Homo sapiens: one gene and its partners. The protein of the gene in region 2 purifies or fractionates together with the protein of the main gene of each other region. This does not show direct contact. Each region holds a gene or a part of one and is shown on either strand. Other genes may lie near its edges.

Evidence for each region. The genes of interacting proteins can lie anywhere in the genome.
Region 1: the proteins of NDP (region 2) and CACNA2D2 purify together in Homo sapiens (affinity purification with mass spectrometry; one large-scale study listed by BioGRID and IntAct). This does not show direct contact.
Region 3: the proteins of NDP (region 2) and CTBS purify together in Homo sapiens (affinity purification with mass spectrometry; one large-scale study listed by BioGRID and IntAct). This does not show direct contact.
Region 4: the proteins of NDP (region 2) and CACNA2D1 purify together in Homo sapiens (affinity purification with mass spectrometry; one large-scale study listed by BioGRID and IntAct). This does not show direct contact.

The regions. Positions count from the first base shown.
Region 1 is NC_000003.12:50,376,814-50,382,166, forward strand, and holds part of CACNA2D2 (voltage-dependent calcium channel subunit alpha-2/delta-2 isoform b precursor), read right to left. Parts: intron 4,314-5,353; coding exon 4,182-4,313; intron 3,993-4,181; coding exon 3,935-3,992; intron 3,206-3,934; coding exon 3,155-3,205; intron 3,012-3,154; coding exon 2,912-3,011; intron 2,778-2,911; coding exon 2,619-2,777; intron 2,387-2,618; coding exon 2,279-2,386; intron 2,181-2,278; coding exon 2,102-2,180; intron 1,521-2,101; coding exon 1,471-1,520; intron 1,285-1,470; coding exon 1,195-1,284; intron 991-1,194; coding exon 919-990; intron 729-918; coding exon 654-728; intron 1-653. UniProt on the Homo sapiens protein: The alpha-2/delta subunit of voltage-dependent calcium channels regulates calcium current density and activation/inactivation kinetics of the calcium channel.
Region 2 is NC_000023.11:43,965,600-43,970,952, reverse strand, and holds part of NDP (norrin precursor), read left to right. Parts: intron 1-1,332; exon of another isoform or gene 1,333-1,493; intron 1,494-5,353. UniProt on the Homo sapiens protein: Activates the canonical Wnt signaling pathway through FZD4 and LRP5 coreceptor.
Region 3 is NC_000001.11:84,559,620-84,564,972, forward strand, and holds part of CTBS (di-N-acetylchitobiase precursor), read right to left. Parts: intron 4,214-5,353; coding exon 4,116-4,213; intron 3,800-4,115; coding exon 3,638-3,799; intron 1-3,637. UniProt on the Homo sapiens protein: Involved in the degradation of asparagine-linked glycoproteins. Hydrolyze of N-acetyl-beta-D-glucosamine (1-4)N-acetylglucosamine chitobiose core from the reducing end of the bond, it requires prior cleavage by glycosylasparaginase.
Region 4 is NC_000007.14:81,956,457-81,961,809, reverse strand, and holds part of CACNA2D1 (voltage-dependent calcium channel subunit alpha-2/delta-1 isoform 1 preproprotein), read left to right. Parts: intron 1-1,980; coding exon 1,981-2,090; intron 2,091-2,452; coding exon 2,453-2,535; intron 2,536-4,261; coding exon of another isoform or gene 4,262-4,378; exon of another isoform or gene 4,379-4,765; intron 4,766-5,353. UniProt on the Homo sapiens protein: The alpha-2/delta subunit of voltage-dependent calcium channels regulates calcium current density and activation/inactivation kinetics of the calcium channel. Plays an important role in excitation-contraction coupling.

The DNA.
Region 1 (5,353 bases), on a different chromosome or scaffold from region 2:
TCCACAGGCCAAGATGCAGACTCCCTGACCGCAGGCGCTGGGCCAGCCACAATGCCATCTTGCCCCTACCCTGGTTTATGATTGTTTTTCACCTTTGGGCCCTTGGCCAGAGAATTCCCTCTGCCTCCAATGTACGCCATCCCCTCCTTTCCTTTCTGCCTGGGACACTCCTGCCTATGTGCATGGGCCAGGTCTGGCCTGCTGCCCATTACTATGTGGCCATGAGCTAAGAATGGTTTTATGTTTTTAAATGGCTGGAAAAAACATCAAAGGAAGAATTCTATTTTGTGACATGTGAAAATTATCTGAAATTCAAATATCAGTATCCACAAATAAAATTAAATTGGAACATAGCCATGCCCATTGTTTATGTTTTGTTTGTGGCTGCTTTCACAATACAACAGTGCAACCGAGTAAGAGATGGGTATGTAGGTCTGCAAAGCCTAAAATATTCAGTCTGGCCCTTTACAGAAAGTTTGCCAACCCAAGGTCACCTTGTTCTAGACCCAAGGTCACCTCCTGGGGAAGCCTTCCCCGACCCCTGAACTCAGAGGTCTCCATGGAGGCGCTGTAATACCCATCAGTCTTCTCTGCTGAGCCTGCCTGTGTCCACATGGGAGGCAGGGTACGCGGATGGGCAGGGGGATGCTCACCGTGTAGTTGGGGGTCAGCCTCTTGATGTCATTCAGAGCCACGTCAATGCCCATCACGCCCAGGATCAGCTGGTTCTGGGAGCAGAAGCATGGGGGGCTCCTCAGTGAGCTCAATTCCATGGGGAACCACCCTCCACAAGGCCTCAAGCTGCTCTCACAGGCAGTGTGCAGGCCTGCCCTGCCCCTCTTCCACCCTCAGACCTGCTGTGGGCATGCCCATTCCTCCCCAGGCACACCCATAGCCCCAACCCTCCCCTTTCCTCACCTTCTTTTCCCCAGGGCCATCCTGTGTCAGGTTGAAAACAGGGAGGGTCCCTGTTACCACCAACCCCAGTCCCTGAAGGGAGAGGAAGATGATGGAGTCACCTGTGGCCAGCACTGACCCCACCCTGAGTGTTCAGAGCAGGGACTGAGGTGCAGGCCACCTCTTTCTCCTGTGCTTGGTTTACCCCATAAGGGGGCCCTCCAGGGTCTTGACCCTGTGGGCACATCTCCGGGGGAAGGGTGCCAGCCCCACCCCTTCCTTGTCCAGAGGCCTTACCAGTGCATCCTCATACACGTTGGTCCACTGCACCTGCTTGGCCTCCTTGCCTGCCAGCACCATGGGCCTGCCCAACACATCTAGATATTCCTGGGGAGGGGGCAGTGGTGGGGGTAATGAGTGCCTTTCCCAGGCACTGCCTGTTCTGTCTCGCCAGGCATTGGGATTGTGCCCCAGCCACTGTGAGGGGGCGCCCTTGGCCCACAGCAGCCCATGGCACACAGCGTCCCTGCAGGGAAGCCAGGGGCTGGGAGGAGGGGCCTCCCCAAGTCTCACCTGTGTGTTGATGCGGATGGCTCCGATGGAAGGGATCTCAAAATAGTAGCCTGTGAAGGAAGGAGAGGCAGAGGTGGGCCTGGCTGGCACTGCAGGATCCATGTGCAGAGGGCCCTGCCCCTGGGGTGTGTCTGCAGCCCTGCCTCGCCTCTTGGGCTCCTCTCTTTTTGGGGTCCTCTCCCTCTAGTGCTCCCGGCCTCTGCCCTGCCAAGGGCGGTGCTATGGAGAGGGAGTGAGTGCAGCAGTATCAGGAAGCAGAGCAGGGGGCAGAGATGGGGAGGGAGGAGCCTGAGGTCTGAGGTCCCTCATTTTAGGGTGCAATGCCATTCAAAGTCCACCCGGCAGCCAGGCCCAAGTGCACAGAGAGATGGACGGATCAGCAAACAGACGCAGGAGTAGACAAGCTGGGGGACGGTTGGACAATGGACAGACAGACGGGCAAAAAGAGGCTCAGTTAGGTGGACCCGTTAGCCCCCAGATAGAGTGAGGGACAGCCTCGTGGATGGGAGGAGGCACACTGTCTTGCAGCGGGTGAACACACAGCTGGACATATGGATGGCCAGTTGAACATACGCAATCGACAAAAAGAAATGGCAGGCAGGCCCCTGACAGTGATGCGCAGGGGAGGTACCTTTGTTGGCACAGGCCATCCACTGCAGCGGTGTGACGTCATAGTTATGCTGCCCCACGGAGAAAGTAAACACGCGCACCTGTGGGGGGTTTGAGGTTACTGCTGTGGCCACCAGGGGACAGCCCTCTTCTGTACTGGGCCCAGGTCAGGGTAGCCCCTGCCTCGGTTGAGCCTCACCGTCCGGTTTGGCCAATTGTACTTCTCAAAGACGTCCTGCACGCGGTCCTCACCACCATCCGTGAACATCATGATCATCTTGTTGCAGTTGGCCCGAGTGATGTTGGACTGAGGGGAGTGAGGCGGAGGCAGGCAGCTCTCAGCCCTCCCTGGTCCAGGGGCAGGGCCTCCCTCCCGCAGTGGGCCTGGACCTCTGGCCCTCCTCCCCCACAGCAGATGGAGCTATCTGTCCAAGCTGCCTGTTTGGTGCTAACGAGGCCATCCGTCTTGATTTCCTGGGTACACCAAGCCAGGGCCCTCTACTCCCCCAGCCGCCCACTTGCCCACCCATGGGGCTCACGTTCTGCAGCTGGTCAAAGGCATACTCAAAGCCGGCCTTGTAGCCTGTGGTGCCCTTGGCCACCATGCCCTGCACAGCTTCCTTGAACACCTTCTTGTTGCGCACATTGGCCTGCACCAGGTGTGTGAAGCATGACACAGGCTGTGCCTTCTCGTTGAACTGCAGGAACAGTAGGGTGGTGAGTGGCCTCAGGCTGGCCGGGGTAGGCAGCTATTGCATGGGGCTGGTGATGGTCACAGGAGCAGGGCAGATGGGGTGACCCATTTCACCCCGTCTGCCACCTTGGCACTCACCGAGGCCACATTCACATAGTCATCATCAGACAGCGTGTCCAGCATCTCGCAGACAGATGTCTTCATCAGCTTCAGGGTCAGGCCGCTCACACTGCCACTCCTGGAGAGGTCAGGCAGGGGACGTGGAGGAGCCAGGGGAACCTCACGTGTTCTCCTGCCCATCCCCCAAGATGTTCAGGGCAGCAGAGTCTAGCCCATTGCCCGTCCCTGCCCCAGCCCCACTTGCCAGCACTGCTCACTCACACATCCACGATGATGACCATGTCTTTGGGTGACGAGGCCCCCTGGATATACCTGCCCAGGAGATGCCTCTGTTAGGGTAAGGCCCACTGGGACCTTGTGGGTCCTTCCTTCCTTCACATACATATTGATTCAATACATTTCTCTTGAGCATGCACTGTGTGGGCCAGGCAGGGTTCTATGCACCGATGATACCACATTTAACGAAACAGACACAGTCCTTGCCCATGACATGAATGGTCTGGTTCCTCAGCAAGGAAAAAGTACCAGGGGGTATATGAGCAGGTGATCCCCAGAGGGGGCAGGAGCCACATTCCCTGGCTTCAGTGGCTTGTTGTGTCCTCTGCCTCAGGTTGGGGCCCCGAGGGCACAGTCTAGCTGTGTATGGGATGGTGCAGGTGGCAGGGAAGGAGAGTCACAGGGAGCTGCCGGAGGGGCAGAACAGAGGGGAGGGATATCTGGGGCTCAGACGGGTGGGGCAGGGACTGGCCAACCCTACAGAGGCTACATCTGCCTTTGGGGACCCCTTCTGGTCCAATCTCCCTTCCAATCTCTCAGTCCTGAGTGGGTGGGGGTGCTGGGCAGTGGACGGGGGGCATGGCAGCTGGGAGGCCTGCCTGGGTGATGGGATCCATTTTCCAGTGGCAACCATGTGTGAAATGAAAATTGGATACAGCTGGCTGCGCCCTGCTAGGAGGCTTGGAAATGGGGAGGGAGGGGAGCAGGCAGGAAAGGTGGGGAACTGAGGGGGTGTCCCTCCCCAGCCCCTTCTTGCTCGCTCACCAGGGTCTCCTTCGGACATCGTACAGGTCGATCTTCTTGGGGGCTCGCCACGGGGTGGCTGAGGGAGGAGAGAAGGTGAGGGGGACTGGCAGGAAAGGGCTGGCCTGGGTAGGCAGACCTTGCAGAGGCGACTGGGCTGCCACAGACTACAGAGAAGCCACCCCGCCCCATGCCCCCAGGATGGGTGGGCTGGTAGATGGAGAAAGGCGAGGTGCTGGGTAGACAGGGGACAGGGGCTGGTACCTACCCGGGTAGTAGCGAGTGACTCCTGTGGCGCTGCCGAAGACCTGCCACAGCAGTGTGGGGTCTTGTCTGCGGTTTTCCATGAACACATTCTCCAGGGCCTCTGTCCAGTTGAGCTCATTGAGGATGACAGTGGCTGGGGGGAAGCGGGGAGCTGGGGTGGGGAGCACCTGGGCTGTGTCCTGTCGAACCCACCACCACGACACTCATGCCTGTGCCCCCATTTAGAATCCCCCAACTGTTCTCGGCCTATCCAGGCCCTCCCTATTTCCTAGGGCCCAGCTGGGGCTGCCCCAGCTCCTCCAGGAAGACTTTCTGATCCTCACCCCTCCCAAGCTGTGAAAGGAACAGTTCAGCCTACTCTTCCTCCAGGTCCCACATGAGCAGGCAGGGCAGCTGTGGCTGGTAGCCTCTGGAGAGGGGCTGCCCAGGTGGCTGGGTGCTGGGAACTCGGAGCCCTCAGTCCAGCATGCTGCCTGGAGCTAGCACTGGTCCCCCAGGAGCTCACCCATTCAGCATGCACTCCAGGCTTCAGCCACAAGAAAGCAATTAAGGGCCTGCTGATGGGGCTGGAATTATTCAGCTATTAAGTTACCTGATAAGCTGGAAGCCACTCAGCTCCATGATTAATCAACTGGGGCCAGAAGCAAGCAGGGGTGGGGGCGGGGGCTCTTGGAGGGGCAGGGGCATGCCAGATCCTGCTTCAACACAGGCAAGTGTACTTGTACACGCATGCGCACACTGCACACCCCCCAACAGGTATACCTGTGTCTAACCTGTGTGTTTCCAGCCAGATGGAACCCACCTGCCTAGCACCCCAGCTGCCACCATGGGCACAAGGGCACACACGTTCATGCCTACACACCACTCTGCACCTACAGGGGACACTCATGGGTCCTGCTCACAACCCCCTACCATCAGTTACCCCATTCTCCCTTCCCCCCAACCCTTGTAGTTGCACGTGTGTGATCCCCTGTCCAGATCTATCCCTACACACACACACACACACACACACACACACACACACACACAAACAAGGCTCCTCTCAGAGAATGGACTCCAATCCTGCGGACCCTTCAACCTGGGCAGAGATCCAGGATGGTTTGAGCAGTACCCTCGACCCCCAACTCGGGGCGGCCTGATGTGTGTGTGTGACACATGTTCTCATGTGTGCAG
Region 2 (5,353 bases):
TGGGTACACGTCATTTGCACAGCTAACACGGCTAGATCTTTCCAGCCTGGGTAGAAGAATCCCGGAAAAAGACAGTAGTTTATCCTTTCTCTGCTCTCCTGAGCACCCTGTGGAAAGGACCATATGCTGTCTCTATTGGGGATGGGTGTGAGTCGCCTACTCAGTAGCTAACATCAGGGCCACTTGATGAATCATCGAATTAGAAACATGCATATGGAGGAAGATGCAGTCACTATCCCTCACCACTTACTTGTCCCACCCCCAGTATCAAAACAAATGACCTCTGGGCCTGGCCTAAATTCAAGAGGCCCCTGGGAAGAAGCTGTTGGAAACTCTTCCCCAAACCCAGGTCTCCATCATAGCCACACAGTGTTGCTTTCAAATAACCCAGTATGGTGTTTTATCACGTGTTTAGGTTACTGGGGGAAAAAAAAAACCCTGAAAACAGCATCACCAGGGTCCTTGACTTGGTCCTTATCAGCAGATAATCCCCCGTGGTTGGATTAAAATGCCTCTGACTCCCTGGGGTGCCTGACTCACCCTAGCCAGCCCTCAGCTTCTTGGCCAGCGGCCTTCGAGCCCATCCTCACCTCTTCCCATGACGGCCAGTGACTGCTTCTTTGCCCAGGCCCTCTGCACTAGGCCAGCAGCCAGTGGGAGCAGAGGGGATGGGAAGGCAGGTGGACAGACTGTGAAGTGCTAAGGCAGAGCGGGGAAGCAGGGCTGTGAGACAGGGTGGGTGAGCTCCAGGGCCTGGGTTGCTGTGGCCTGCCCTGGCTGTGATCAGCTGTCATTTCCTCTTTGTGTATGACACTGTGGAACATATTAAAATTTCTCTGGGATGGTATGTTTGGAATTCCTCTGATGCCCCACCTCACCAACTTACCCGGACAATAAAAGCAAGGTTGTAAGCCTTTGAACAGCTGGCTGGCTATATATTTCCCTTCTTTCTTTCGCATAATCTAATTCAGAAAAGAATCCAGCTAGACTGGCAGTGCCATGTCTGGGTACTTGTTTCCTGCAAGTCCTTCCTCCTCCACCTCCTCCCGCCAGTCCTGGAATCTTCCTGGGTGGCATGTGGCTTTTCTTTTCTTTTGCTCACCACTGCTCCCAGCCCGCCCCCTTTTCCCTTCGCCTGAGCTCCTTCCTTTGTCAGCTGGCTCTTTGCTCTGCCTGTTTTCCAGACAGCTTGGGTCCTGTTCCATCCGGGGAGAACAGCCCATGGGATCTCCCCATCTCCATAGTATTCCCAGGATGTCATTCTTGGCACCAGCTCTGCCGGGCTGATAGGACTGGGGGGCTTTTTGTAGTCCCGAGCCTGAATCCACTCACAGAGAGGAGCAGCCACATGGCTTAGCTGCCCTTTGGGCTGCCGAGAGCGGGGCTGGAGTGACCGGGTTGGCAGGAACGAGCATACCATCACAGTGACCCGAACATCTCCGGCAAAGGCCTTGGGGTGGGAGCGCTATGGGAATGCCTGGATGCACTTCGGCCTACATTAAGAGAAATGTGGTTATTCTCTGTTTCGGGGGAGAGACAAGCGGCTTGAAACAAAGCCCTCTGGATCCTTGGCCCCTTCCCTGCCCCCTTTCCCGGTCTGTCCTTCCCACATCCCTCCCTCCCCAAACAGAAAGAAAGAGAGACAGGACTTCTAATTTGGCCAGCACAGACCCGAATGTCTTTATGAAACCCATTTAGTGAAAGAAAGAGGGGAGAAATATATTCTGGGTTGATCCGAACTAAAAAATGCATGGGGCTTTGGAGATGGGGCGGGATTTTTTCTTTCTTTCTTTCTGTCTCTTAAGAGCAGAACAACAGTTTCGTTGATGAGTTGCAAATGGAAGGAAGTGGACCTCTCAATTAGAGATTCCCATTTAAGAGCCTCAATGTAAACCTCCCTGTGACATCCTTAAAAGATGCTGCTAATGTCCCTGGGACCAAAAGGTATTAAACAGCAAGCCACCAGGCGGCTTCCTATTCCTTTTCTTTTTCTGGGGGCTTTGGTCGTCTTTTTCAAATTAGCTAAAATTCATTAAAGGACCCAAAAGGAAAAATTTAAAGCAGCTGAATTAAAATGAGTCTTTCCCTGTTAGCCTGACAAGAAGAAAAAAAGAAAGGAAGAAAGGGAAAGAAAGAGAAGAAAGAACCAATTCCCCTCCACTACCACTTCTTGGGTTTTAATATGAATTATTCCATACAAGTCCCTAGGCTAGAGGATCTATTTAAAGACGCCTGGCAGCATGAAGGGAGAGGGTAAAAATACAACCACTCTTTTGTCCATCAAAGGTTTTCTTTGGGAGGACATTAAGAGCATTCCTGTTTTCTTGTCTGCCCCTGCCAGTGGCAATGTTCCAGCTGGTAGTATCCACTCCTCGCCCATCAGGTCAGCAATCATGAACTTCTGTGTTTAATTTCAGGAGAAAACAAAGGGTGGGAAATCCTTCCGAAACCCCTATGTGTGTGCAGCAGGGCAGGGGAGGCTGGAACTGGAATCAGTACTCTCTTGGCTGTGCAGGTTGCATGCTGCAAATTCACACACCCACACAGTTGAGTTGTTGAGGAAGATTGTGCCGATGGCATTATTTCTGATGCCAGCTTCCCTTGCATCTGCAAAGCTTTTTTCTTGTGTCTCTGGCAGTCATTTGCTTGTCACCATTCATGTGCACTGTCCCCTTCATCAGAGGTTCTCAGAGCCTGATGGTCAAGGATATGTCACTAGAGTCTTACCCCCAGACCCATTTTCAACAGTAAGAACGTGAAACCCTGGATGGGGTTTGCAATCTGAAGCAACTACTTTCTTGTTAGGAAGAGTGCTGACTCAGAAAATTCAAAGAATGGGTAACTTCCGTTGGCGACATATCCCCAGTGCTCATAATCAGGAATTCATCCAGTTGGGGTCCATTTCACCCTCATGGCAAAATCTGGACATAAACATTGACTAGTAGCTTTAAACTGGGTATAAGATTTGCAACAGATAACATTTTTGTCTTTTCTTTTTTCTTTTTTTTTTCCACAAAAGCTAAGAATTTTTCAGACAATTTGCTCTCTTCCAAGGCCTGGATCAATCCCAACTTTTTCTTTTAAGCCATGATCCAACCAATTGCAGTATCCTTTAAAAATGAAAGGGCAACAGGCTAAGACATTCAAGAAAGTTGATAAGCTGTCAGAAAATGCTCAAGGGTGGCCTTTCTACAGTGCCACAAACCAACAACAGCCCTAAACGTGGAGTCCTCTTCCATCCTTTCATCAGTAGGGAATAAAAATAGGGAGAGAGCAGGTCAGGGGAGAAGTAACAAAAGAGAAGTAAGAAGGATTATTTTTGATGTTCAAAATCTGCTGCTGCCCTTTCAATATTTTCAAATATCACAATTTCAGAAAGGGAAGGATCCCTTTATTTCACCCACTCTCCCTCCCAGGAAGGTGTTTGAAGTTGCTGTCTTTACCTGAAAAGGAGGTCAACTCCTCAAGTGAAAAAACATCCCCTATCTTCAACTCGAAGTAAAATGGAGGTACACACATTTGTACCTAATTATGTGGGTACAAATATAATTTGTATCCACAAACTATAAAGGATGTAAAGAATCAAAGAAATCCAATCCTTAATCAAAGTCCAATTTTTCTTTAAAACTTGAGAGGATATTTTAGGGCTCATTGCATTGCTGTGATTTCACTGCCCCCCACCAAATTATGAAAAATTACTCCTTTTCAGAATTTAAATTTTTCTTTTGAGATGTGGAATCCAAAGGCAGCAGAATAGTATTGTTACAGGGAAGCTGGCAGTCAAAAGACATAGACATAGCTGCAGCATGCATGGTTTAAGCAAATCAAGACAAGCAGAAAACCACCACCCCAACAAGTTCAGGGTTATCAGCAATATAGGGACACGTATTTTTATGTGATTTTTATGAGAACCTTGCCCCTTTGACATATGTCTGAGTCTAGGAGCATTCCGGATTGCAACGGGATTGAATTCAGTATTCAAATCCCACCATTGGGCAGAAAAGGCAAATTGAATGGGGAATGGAAAGACTGAGTTGCTCCTATTGTTTATGCCCCATTCCTAACTAAGGGCTCTACAGCTGTTAGGTGAGATCACTACCCACCATTCCAAAGTGTTGTTGCGGGTGAGGAGGTTCAAACGCAGCTTTGGAAACACTTTGCTGCACTCTTTGAAGAAAGGCCAACATGCTCATTTGGCTCTAGGGTAAAAGAGAGCCTGTACCCTGAGCTAACATTGGTCACCTCTCCTCCTGAGGCCATACCACAGCCAGCAGTACAGCAGCAGAACAAGTGTTTAGTTGTTTCAGCACAGGTATCCCCAGAACACCTGGCACCTTTTCTTTTCCACAGGGAGAATGTACATTCATGCATTTTGGCAAGACTGAGTCCTCTGAGTTGGGTGTCTCGGAACTCTCCTATTTTCCTTCTAAAGGGTCTTATGTAAGGTGAGCAGTAGAGTGTGTCTCATTCCTCATAAAAAATCCCCTTCCTGGGAGGGAGTGGGTGAAATGAAGGGATCCTTCCCTGACTGAAATTGTGCTATTTGAAAAAATTGAAAGGGCAGTGGCAGATTTTGAACTTCAAAATGAATCCTTCCTCCTCCTCCTCCTCTTTTGTTACTTCTCCCATGACCTGCTCTCTCCCTACTTTAATTCCCCATTGAAGAAAGGATAGAAGAGGACTCTGTGTTTAGGGCTACTGTTGATTTGTGGCACTATAGAAAGGCCACCCCTAAGCATTTTCTGACAGCTCATCCCCATCTCAGTCACAGCTTTTATTTGGGTAGCTGGATTTACAGAAATAATCAAATCCCTAGAGGAAAAGACTTCAACAGAAAAGTACCTCCTGACACTTGGGTAACCTGACTTGGTCATTTCCAATTTATGCAAGATTTGTATTCTAAAAGTCAATTAGTTATGTCAACTGTTAAAAACTCAGAATGAGTCTTTCCATTCTTCAGAATGACTCTTTTCTGATTATCTGTGGGCCATAGAAGCCCACAGATACTCAGCACAGGATCCAAGTGCCATACCAAGTGGTCAACTCTTTTAGACGTAAGTCTCAGCCCAGGGCTTCTGGAATGTACCTCCCCTAGCAGAGAAGCTCTGTAGTAGATACTTTACCAAGCACAGGGCCTCGCTCTTGACCCCAAGACTACTGATTCTACTTGCAGAGAAGACAACTTTTCTAATCAATCTTTCTCTTCTATCCTGAACCAGAGTATCAGAGATTGTCCCATTAGGGCACGAGGATCTGTGGCTCAAGCTCAGTTAAGAAATAAGCGTCTTTCAAAAGAAAGGTGCAAGAGGGTGGAACTCAGCCTATATTGTCATTATCAAATGCAAGAAGTCTA
Region 3 (5,353 bases), on a different chromosome or scaffold from region 2:
TCAGAAAAAAAAGACTTAATAACGATATTGAAATTAGACTAATAACCTTACAATGGGAATTTTGCAATGAATAAAAAAGAGGAAGAAAATAGTTATAATTAGATTGTTTTCTGAAGTGACATTAAATGGCCTTCAAGGCTCACCAAAATGTTTCCTGAATTCTAAGAGCTTAAACAATGTGTTGGCCAGGTGCAGTGGCCCATGCGTGTAATCCCAGGCCTTTGGGAGGCCAAGGTAGGCGGATCACTTGAGGTCAGGAGTTTGAGACCAGACTGGCCTACATAGTGAAACCCCATCTCTACTAAAAATATAAAAATTAGCCCGGCATAGTGGCGGGCACCTGTAATCCCACCTATGGGGGAAGCTGAGGAGTAGAATTGCTTGAACCCAGGAGGCAGAGGGTGCAGTGAACCCAGAGGGCGCCACTGCACTACAGCCTGGGCGACAGAGCAAGACTCTGTCTCAAAAAAAAAAAAAAAAAGAAAGAAAGAAAGAAAGAAAGAAAGAAAGAAAGGAAAGAAAGAAAGAAAGAGAAACTAGAATCCCTCTTCCCTAAAATGGGTCATAGAAACTAGAGCCTCTTTTCCCCAAAACCAGCCATAAAGTCTAAAAATGTTACTCTAACCTTTCCCACCACCACCTTTCTGTGTAATAGCTGGCCATAAAGAAATTAAGACCCTCATTCCAGAGAGGTCCTACCCCATACCCATGAGAAGAAATCCTTCACAGAGAGGCCAAGAAAAATCTGAACAGACAGTCCTTGCTGAGTTTTCCCACTCAGTCTGTTTGCATTAGCTCATGCCCTTTATTCTGATCACAGTTCTACATAGCTGTCCATACTTCGTTGAACCTAAGCACAAAAATGGACAGTTTTTCCTGTATCTTTGGGTTTTCATTCTGAAACCTCCCATGTCGGGTAAAATTATGATCAAACACATTTTAAAAGGCAGAGACCCCTTTCTTCAAATAAATCTTATATTGGAAGAAGATGATGCCATTTAAGACTTTGCTAGCTAGACAGGAGAAGTCAATACCTGGCTTTAAAGCTCAAAGTACAGGCTGATTCTCTTGTTAGGGACTAATGAGGGTGGTAACTTTAAGTTGAAGCCAGTGTTCATTTACCATTCCAAAAATCCTATGGCACTTAAGAATTATGCTAAATTGACTCTGCCTGTGATCTATAAATGGAATAACAAAGCCTGGCTCACAGCACATCTGTTTACTGAATATCTTAAGCCCACTGCTGAGATGTACTAAGAAAAAAAAGAGATTTCTTTCAAAATATTACTGCTCATTGACAATGCACTTGGTCACCCAAGAGCTCTGATGGAGAACACAAGATGAATGTTATTTTCATGCCTGCTAACACAACATCCATTCTGCAGCCCATGGAACAAGGAGTAATTTCAACTTTTAACTCTTATTAATTAAGAAATAGATTTTGTAAGGCTGTAGCAGCCAAAGACAGTAACTCCTTTCATGGATCTGGCCAAAGTAAACTGAAAGCTTTTTGGAAAGGATTCACCATTCTAGATGCCATTAAGAACATTCATGATTCATGCATGGGAGGAGGTCAAAATATCAACATTAACAGGAGTTTGGAAGAAGTGGGTTACAACCCTCATGGATGACATTGAGGGGTTCAAGACTTCAGTGAAGGAAGTAACTGCAGAGGTAGTGGAAACAGCAAGAGAATTAGAATTGGAGGTGAATCCTAAATATGTGACTCAATTGCTACAATCTCGTGATAAAATTTGAATAGATGAGGAGCTACTTCTTATGAATACGCAAAGAAAGTAGTTTCTTGAGAATGGAATCTATTCCTGGTAAAATGCTGTGAACATTGTTCAAATAACAGCAAAGGATTTAGAATATTCTATAAACTTATTAATAAAGCAGCAGCAGAGTTTGATGGGGTTGACTCCAATTTTGAAAGAAGTTCTACTGTGGGTAAAATGCAATCAAATAGCATCACGTTTTACACAGAAATCTTTCGTGAAAGGAAGAGTCAATTGACGTGGCAAACTTCACTGTTGTCTTATTTTAAGAAATTGCCATAGCCACCCCAACCTTCAGCAACCACCACCCTGATCAGTCAGCAGCCATCAATGACAAGGCAAGACACTCTTCCAGCAAGCAGGTTATAACTTGATAAAGGCTCAGATGATCGTTATCATTTTTTTAGCAATAAAGTATTTTTAAATTAAGGTATGTACTTTTTTTAGACATAATGCTATTACACACTTAACAGACTACAGTATAGTATAAACATAACTTTTATATGCACAGGGAAACAAAAAATTCATGTCACTTGCTTTATTGCTATATTTACTTTATTGTGGTGGTCTAGAACTGACTCTGCAATATCTCTAAGGTATGCCTGTATATGTAATTGGTTACCATAACTTTTAACAAACCATATCCATGAAACAGTTTCTAAGAACTGCATGTTTCTAAGAATGCTGTGAAACAAGATTATATGTCAAACAATTAAACTACCTTATGTATTACAGCACTTCTCAAACCCATTAATATAATTGTTGTTACAAATCTCCAAGAGGGGCGTACAGTATATAGTGTTTTTCTAAATATATTTGGCCATGGCACACGTGTGTATATTTTGCACACATGTGCATCTGTGTGTGTAATATTAACAGTTCCCAGGACAGACTAATATAAACACTGTTTAGGAAAGATAAGATTACAATACACTCTAGTTTCACTAATAGGTATATACTTTCAGTTCCAAAGTTTAGAAAGCTCTACACTAAAGCTCTCTGTGGAGGCATACACATGTATATCAATTATAATTTATGACATGTAGTGTGTTTGCAGTCATTTTTTTATAAATGGGTACCAGACCATTAATTAAGCATATAAATCCTTGCTGAACTTCACTTATATCATTTTAGTACTCCTTTTAAAGTAACATAATCTGAAATAAATTCAAAGAGGATTTGTACTTAGATTTTTGAGCTGTGGAAGAGCCTTTATAATGCTAAAGGTAAATTATGAAAACTGTAACTTTTCTTTGCCATTTTGGTATAGCAATTCCTATTAAACACTACTTGACAGAATTGCTAATCACTTAGTGTATTTCTTCAGGTTTCCTTTATGTAATATTTTTGTAAGTTTTGACATTGCTTTATAATTTAATTATAAAATAAATTGAAAATGATAGTTTTTCCATTGTAAAGTCGATTATGACACCTCTTCTGTTCTCAGCCTCATTCCTCCCTATGTAAGTCTCATCAGAATCTGTAGGCCACTTTGAAATGGAGGCTTTCAGAGATAGTAACTTATTTTGGCCCAAAACCCATTCAAAATCAACAGTCATCCTAACATAATTGTCAACTGTTACAGAAATCCTGTTTGTGATATGCACATTTTTATGGCATCATCTAAATGACAAGTGGCCCAAGCAGAGTAGATTCACCATTAGCAAAACTCCAATTGCTCGCCAGGGAACTAAAGTTCCTGATTACAGATTCAAAGACAAGTTTACTCATGTAAATAGCAGTCTGCATGTTATGCCCTAAAAGAAAACTGATAGAAATTCTTGATATCAAACATCTAATTATGAAAATAATTACAAAAACTAATAGAATAAATGCTCATAACTTACGAAAAGTCTTACTTTATAGTTATAATAAGGAGCCCGCTGATCTTTATCCCATAGGTTTCCAGAAATAGAACTATTTATTTGCTTCATGATCGTTTTGTAGGGCACCTGACGTCCTGCAGCGTCACTACAAGGAGCCCCCCGGAAAGGGACTTTTGCAATGGTACAAACATGATCCTAGAAATGCAAAAGTGCTCATGTTATATATTATCAATTATGCAATTCTTAAAAGCCAAACCAAAAATATATAAATTATTTAGAAATAAAACATATACCATAGAAAACCTGACTATACAGAAAAAAGGTTAAAATAAATTTCATTATTAAATGAAAATGTATGATAATCATAAGCTTTCATAGAAGTAAAAATAAATAATTTTTATCTCAAACTATATTTCAGAGATTCTAAAGTTTATATATTTCTAATGAAAACAGAGAGACTCTAAAAAATATAATAGATAATAAAAATTATGTAACAAATGACTGTTCCTACCTCAGACAGATTCAGGCAGGTATAATCATAACCATACCAAGGAACACCCATTACAAGTTTCTTAGGATTAATGCTCATCTTGATGTAGTCATTATATCCTAGTCAAGCAGGAGAGAAAAAGCATATTTGTTTCTCTTCATATGTCAATGTGTTCATACAAGCTATGCAACCGTTCAGAATCTGTTTGTAAAAACAAGTACATTTATAAAAAACACTAATATTGTTTAATATGTTATAAAACATCCCTTAAGAACCATAAATTCTATATCTTGCTTTCTAAACCATTTCTCTTTGAATAGGAGAAAACATTCAAAACAATTAAGATCATACTGAAATAAAATATTCACAAAATCTAATTCTAGGAAGAATGACACATTTCAGGAAAGTATGCTAATTATATCTATTAATTCTAAGATATGATATACTTGATACTCTAGATTCTAAAGTTTCAAAAAAGTTTTATAAATCTTAACTTTCTAGCAGTGATGGTCTCAGAGTTTCTTAGAAAGTACAAGTGTTCCATGTTTTGCAAATATTCTGTAAGTAAGCTGGGGATAAGAAATGTGTCATCTATAGTGGGAGGAAACAAAGAGAAAAATGAACAAATCCCTGGAACTATCAGTCCTTTTCTTGCCCAATGCTGCAAAACATGTTTTTCCACCAAGACATATTCACAGATTACCTAGAATGTTCAGCTAAAAAACTTTATTACTTTTTAGAGCCTTTAATGTTATTATGTACTATTAAATAACCAAAAATGGGGTGGGGTATGTATCAGTTCCCAAACATATTGGTTTATTTAGTTTGGTTGTTGATTTATTTATGATACAAAGTATCCCTATGTTGCTCAGGCTGGCTTGAACTTCGGCCTCATGTGATCTTCCCACCTCAGCCTCCCAAGGCTTGAACCTTTTATTGATAGAACATAATTATAATGTCTTGCCTGAAACACAGTTTGGGAACCCTCAATTAATAATTACTTCGTAATTTTAACAGAATAAGTTATTTTTCAACTTTAAATAGGTATGTGGCTAGGCACAATGGCTCATGCCTGTAATTGAAGCTCTCTGGGAGGCTGAGGTGGGAGGATCACTTGCGGCCAGCCTGGGCAACATAGTATGACTCCATCTCCTTAAAAAAAAAATCTTTTTTAAATTAGCTGGGCATGGTGGTGCATGCCTGTATACCCAGCTACTCAGGGGGCTGAGGTTGGGGGATCACTTAAGCCCAGGAGGTCG
Region 4 (5,353 bases), on a different chromosome or scaffold from region 2:
TATAATCATTACAGAAAAAACTGAAAATTGTGTTGGAGTCAGAGATGTGAGTAATTGTTTTAAGCTGAAAATGTCAGCAATCTTTAGTTTCTCTGTAGACTTTTAAAATTTGTAATTTTTAAAATTCTAACTTTGATAAGCTGTTATTTCTTCAACTATAATAATTACATGATCAAGATAATTCCTTTCTCTTTAGGCAGAACATAGAGAAATTTGATTATATTTTAACTTTTTTTCCTAAAATAACCCATATTAAAAATTTCTAATATAAAGTTATTAAATATATTAGTAATTTAAATAATTCTAAGCCAAATATTATTTATTTTTCTATATAGTAACTAAACAGATTTACAAAAAAAAAGTCTTGTTTTGTTTTGTTTTTACTTCTAGTCTTCTCTGACTTGAAGAACTGAATGTTATCTTTATTTGAATTTGAAGGAACTGGGAAAAATACAGTTTTTTTAGGTCATGGTTAATGTTAGTCAGTATCCATAAAATATCTTTTAAAAAGAGATGGAGAATTTAATTTTGTTGTAATGAGGGTAGAGGAGAAAGGCAAGATGGGGATTTTGAGGGGAAAGTAATAATTAATGCCACAGGATTCCTGAGAGGAGAGCAGCAAGTCACAGCTTACAAAGCACAGAGTAGAGACACTTTGTTTTTAGAGGTGGAGGGAAGATTATTCTAGAAGAAATGTTACCATAGCGGAAGAAGAAATAGGAGGAGGTGAGGTAATCTGAGATTATGAAAGTGCCAGAATAGTTAAAAAAAAAAATTTTGCAAGAGGGGCTAAGCAACCTATCATGAATTTTTAGGAGACGTGGTCAGTATGTTTTATGACTTTCTTTAGCAGACCTCTATCTCCAAGGAGGAGGTAGAGTATATAAAGAGGAGAGGAAAGGGAAGGAAGAGTCAAGCATGAACTCAGAAAAAAAGCAGACTGTCTTGTTTAGAGGAGATTAGCATATCAGGCTATGGACTTCAGGAAATGGGATTGTGGCATGTTTATTGGATACATCAGAGTTTCACAGACATTGGCCTTTTATTAATTGACATCCAGCAAGAGCAATTGGTGTGCTTAAAGAAGTAAGTTAAATTGTAAAGTGAAGAAGGTCAGTATAACCAAGATGTTAAATTGCATCATACTTTCCTTTTGATTTGCTTTATGGAAATCAAAGCTTAACAGGGCAAAAAGAAAATCCCACTTTTCTGCAAAATGTATAATGATAAAGAAATTACTTTTTTAGTGATATATTTACATTTTTTATGTTGGTTACTAAAGTAAGAGCAGCTTAAGGTGTGGACAAAACAGGGGATGGAATTCAAAACCCTTGATTCTGTCCATGTCTGTGTTGCCCAGTGCAGTAGTTACCACCTATAGGTGGCTATTGAAATTTCAATTACAGTTAAATTAATTAGAATTAAAATTTTGTGCCTCAGTCACACTTGTCACATTTTAAGTGCCCAATACCCTCGAGTGGCTAGTATTTACCATATTGGACAGTGCGAACAACTTTTCCATCTTCACAGAAAGTTTGCTTAATAGCACTGTTCCAGACTTTTCTCTGCCCTTAGGTTGGGCAAGATGCCTAGACATTTTTGTATTCCCTGTTGTGTTATCTGTAAAATAAGGCAACTTTGGCATAAGCATCACAATTCTTTGTATGTGTAAAGAAAAACTTTTTTCTATGTACATCAACAACTAAATTGTGCTTATTTTGCAATGAGGATTAATACTTTAAAATGGTCACACATAAAACATATATTGCAATTTTTTTATTCATTTGACATAGGTAATACGTTCATGCTAATAAATGAAGCATTTTTTTCTTCTAAAATCATACTCCTATTGTGCTGGGAATGGTTTCTGTTTCAGATGTCATATTTTGTCTTTCATTTTAATATGTAAGAATCTTTGAAAGATTTCCATTTATTTTGGAAAAGATACTCATTTTCTATGATACCATATTTATTTTGCAGAATCTTTCATGGAGAAAAGCTTATGAACACCAACTTAATATTCATAATGGTTGAGAGCAAAGGGACATGTCCATGTGACACACGACTGCTCATACAAGCGGAGCAGACTTGTATCCTTTGACATCAGAGCTATCTGGAAAGGAAAACCATCTTAATGCATTTTGAATCTTGTCACATTGTTTATATTCATAAAGAGAAAACTATTAGACTGCTCTGATCACCTCGCAAAGGCAGAATCGATTCCTCACTCAAAATTTGGTTGGAATGTCAAGAATAATTATGCTACACATGCCCCAGAAAAGGATAATTCACAATTTAGTTCTTTAAATCCCTATGTACTTGAATTGTGTTGGATGAGAGTAATGATGTATAAGTTATCTCTCTCACATGTTTTGGGAAATACATTGCATTGTATTTATTTTTAATCATGTGAAAAAAACTAACATGAGATTCCTTAACAAGTCTCTTTTAGCTGACGGTCCAAATCCTTGTGACATGGTTAAGCAACCCAGATACCGAAAAGGGCCTGATGTCTGCTTTGATAACAATGTCTTGGTAAGATCACACTTCTACTGGATTAAAATACTATAAATTAATGGTCACTGTCCGCAAGAATTCAAGGATACAAATTGCAATTTTAACTCAAACGTAATGTCTTAACCATAGTTTTTCTCATTAACATGACATACTTGCTGGTAGATTTTTTTCATTTCAGTAGTTTTCATGGTTAGCATAAACTTGACAGTTGCTTCTTTTATATGTCCTTCCCACAGAAATTGTGCTTTCAAACACAATTCCAATCAATTTAACTCATAGTAAATGTTAATTATGGTATATTTGTTGCCTCCATTTATATTCCAATCCTGAAGATATAAAAGTTAATTTTATTATATTTTTGTTAGTTATATTTGTCTTCAGTGAATTGAAAAACCTGTTATACAGCCATTGTCTTATTATTACAGAGTTCTAGTGTGAATTGAAAAACCTGTTATACAGCCATTGTCTTATTATTACAGAGTTCTAGTTTCTTTTGGATGGTTTCTGATGCTATCACATATTAGACTTCTATTATTTCCTTTAATTGTACTAATTTCTTTTTCTAGTGTTTGAAACTAGACCAGGTCAATTACATAGGGTTTGATAAAATATTACAAATCATATTTAATATATGTCACTTAAAGATGGCTTACTACTTTTCCTATAGTTCAGCTATCTTTCTCTAATAAATACTATTCTGATTTACTGTGTATTGATTATATACAAGGTAGGTAATATGTCATCAGTATGTACTACATTAGCTTTATGCTTTTAAAATTCTTAAGAAATATTAATCTATTCTCAAAGATGAAGTCTACATAAAAATCTCTGTCTACCTCTTTTTAACTAATTTTAAATACAATACTTCCTAATTCTGATTCTTCAGTGTGTGCACACACCAATGAATATCCAAACTTGTAAAGCATTATCTCATAAATTATTTGAGTTATTTAGTTTACCTACTCAAATACATAGCTGCATTTGTCCCAGAAAGGACAAAACATTTTCACAGATAATATTATGCAATTAGATAATATAAATTAAAAATAGCACAAAGAAGTAATAAAATCAGTAATGGGGACTAAAAATGAAAGATGTATTAGCCAGTCAATCCCAGTTATCTCTGTGAGGGATTATTGATCCTTGCTAGGGAGAGTAATTCAACATTGCAACTAAGCGTTTTTTTTTTCTTTTTAAGATATATTAAGTCCAGATAGGCGGACTCCTGTTATTCTGTCTACTGCAACTTCAGCACGTTGCCCATGTAAAATTATTCCCCCAAAGAATGTTTTATGAAGGGCCAAGGGTCATGTCACTCATTAGAGAAACTTCGCTCATCAACTATTTGTCACCAGTTTTTTGACACTAGAAATATTAAATTCAGATGAACTTGAAAAGTGACTTAAAAGCCTATTGCCCAAAATATTATTCTAGGAGGCTATATCTTATGATCAAGCCATTAAAAGGATTTGACCAAGACAAAAATGTTCAGCAATTGAAGCTCCTATAAATGGGTTGTGTGTGAAAGTACAACTGTTGCTCAGTAGCTTGGTGTGCTAATAATATCTTGTGTTTCTTTAGCAGTGGAGTTATTTTGGTAATGCTTATTTGCAATGGTCACTGTGAATCTGCTCTGGATGGAGACTCACGTTAACTGCCAGCAAATTGCATGAAATCTCATCTTGTATGTCTTCTGTGTTTTCTTTCCTTTTCCTATACTTGCTACTTTGCCCGTTATTAATAGGATCAACTTAAGTGCACAACGAGTCGTGCCTGTACCATGATGTCAGCTCCTATCTTCATTTTACTGCAAGTTTTCATGTGGTGTGGATGGTCAGTCACTTTCTCTAATTTTTCTTAGTTTTTGTTTTTGGCTTGAAATTCTAGAAAATCACCCATATTCCTAAATCTGCGATATTAATGTTCCTGAAACCAGGTTATTAAAATCTCAGGACCAATGTTGTTGTTTTGTAAATAGCTGATTTCAAATGGCATGTACATTTCTAATCCTAAATGAAACATATTCAATATTTATGTAAAAATCATTTTTCATAAAGTTTTTGTGTAAAAATTGTCATTACAGAGACAGATATACAGGCTTCATGGTATTTTATGAGAACTACCTAATGACAATTTTTAGAGGTGGTTATCTCAATTTATTTACAAAAGATGCTAACACAAATTTAATGCACTCTTTCAATTCCTTTCAGATTTTTCTACTTTTTAAAATAAATCTGACTTAAATAACTTTTTAGATTTTTTACTCTCAAAATATTCTTATTGAAATATTTTAGAATAAGTGCTTCTAGTTTCTAAGTTCATTTTATTTAATATACATTATCTAGCCCAAAATTATTAATTAACCTTTTAAGAAATTTCTGAGTTCTCTATTCAATACTACTAAAGAGATGTTTTGGGTCTTGGATTTGCATTTAGTTCTTCATTTACTGTTTTGCAATTTCTTTTCTAATGCTCTGGAATCATCATGATGTATTACTAGAGCACGCACTTTCGTTGTGTTTGTCATTGGTTTCCAAGTAGTCATTGATTAGGAAGCCACTAGATGGAGATGTGGCCATTACTATGAATGGAGTGAATTCACAGGCAGGGGTGATAGAGGGTGGGGAGTAGAATAGCAGAGGGAGTCTCAGAAAATAACCACAAGTCTTCTGGCATAATAAAAGAATAGTTTTCATGGCAAAAGACGCCAAAGTAAGGAAACGTTGCTTTAATATCTTCATATACACATTTTAAAAATTGATATATAGGCAATTATTTGAATTATTATTAATTCCTGAAAGAAGTTCATAGGTAGTCAACCATTACACAAGAAAAG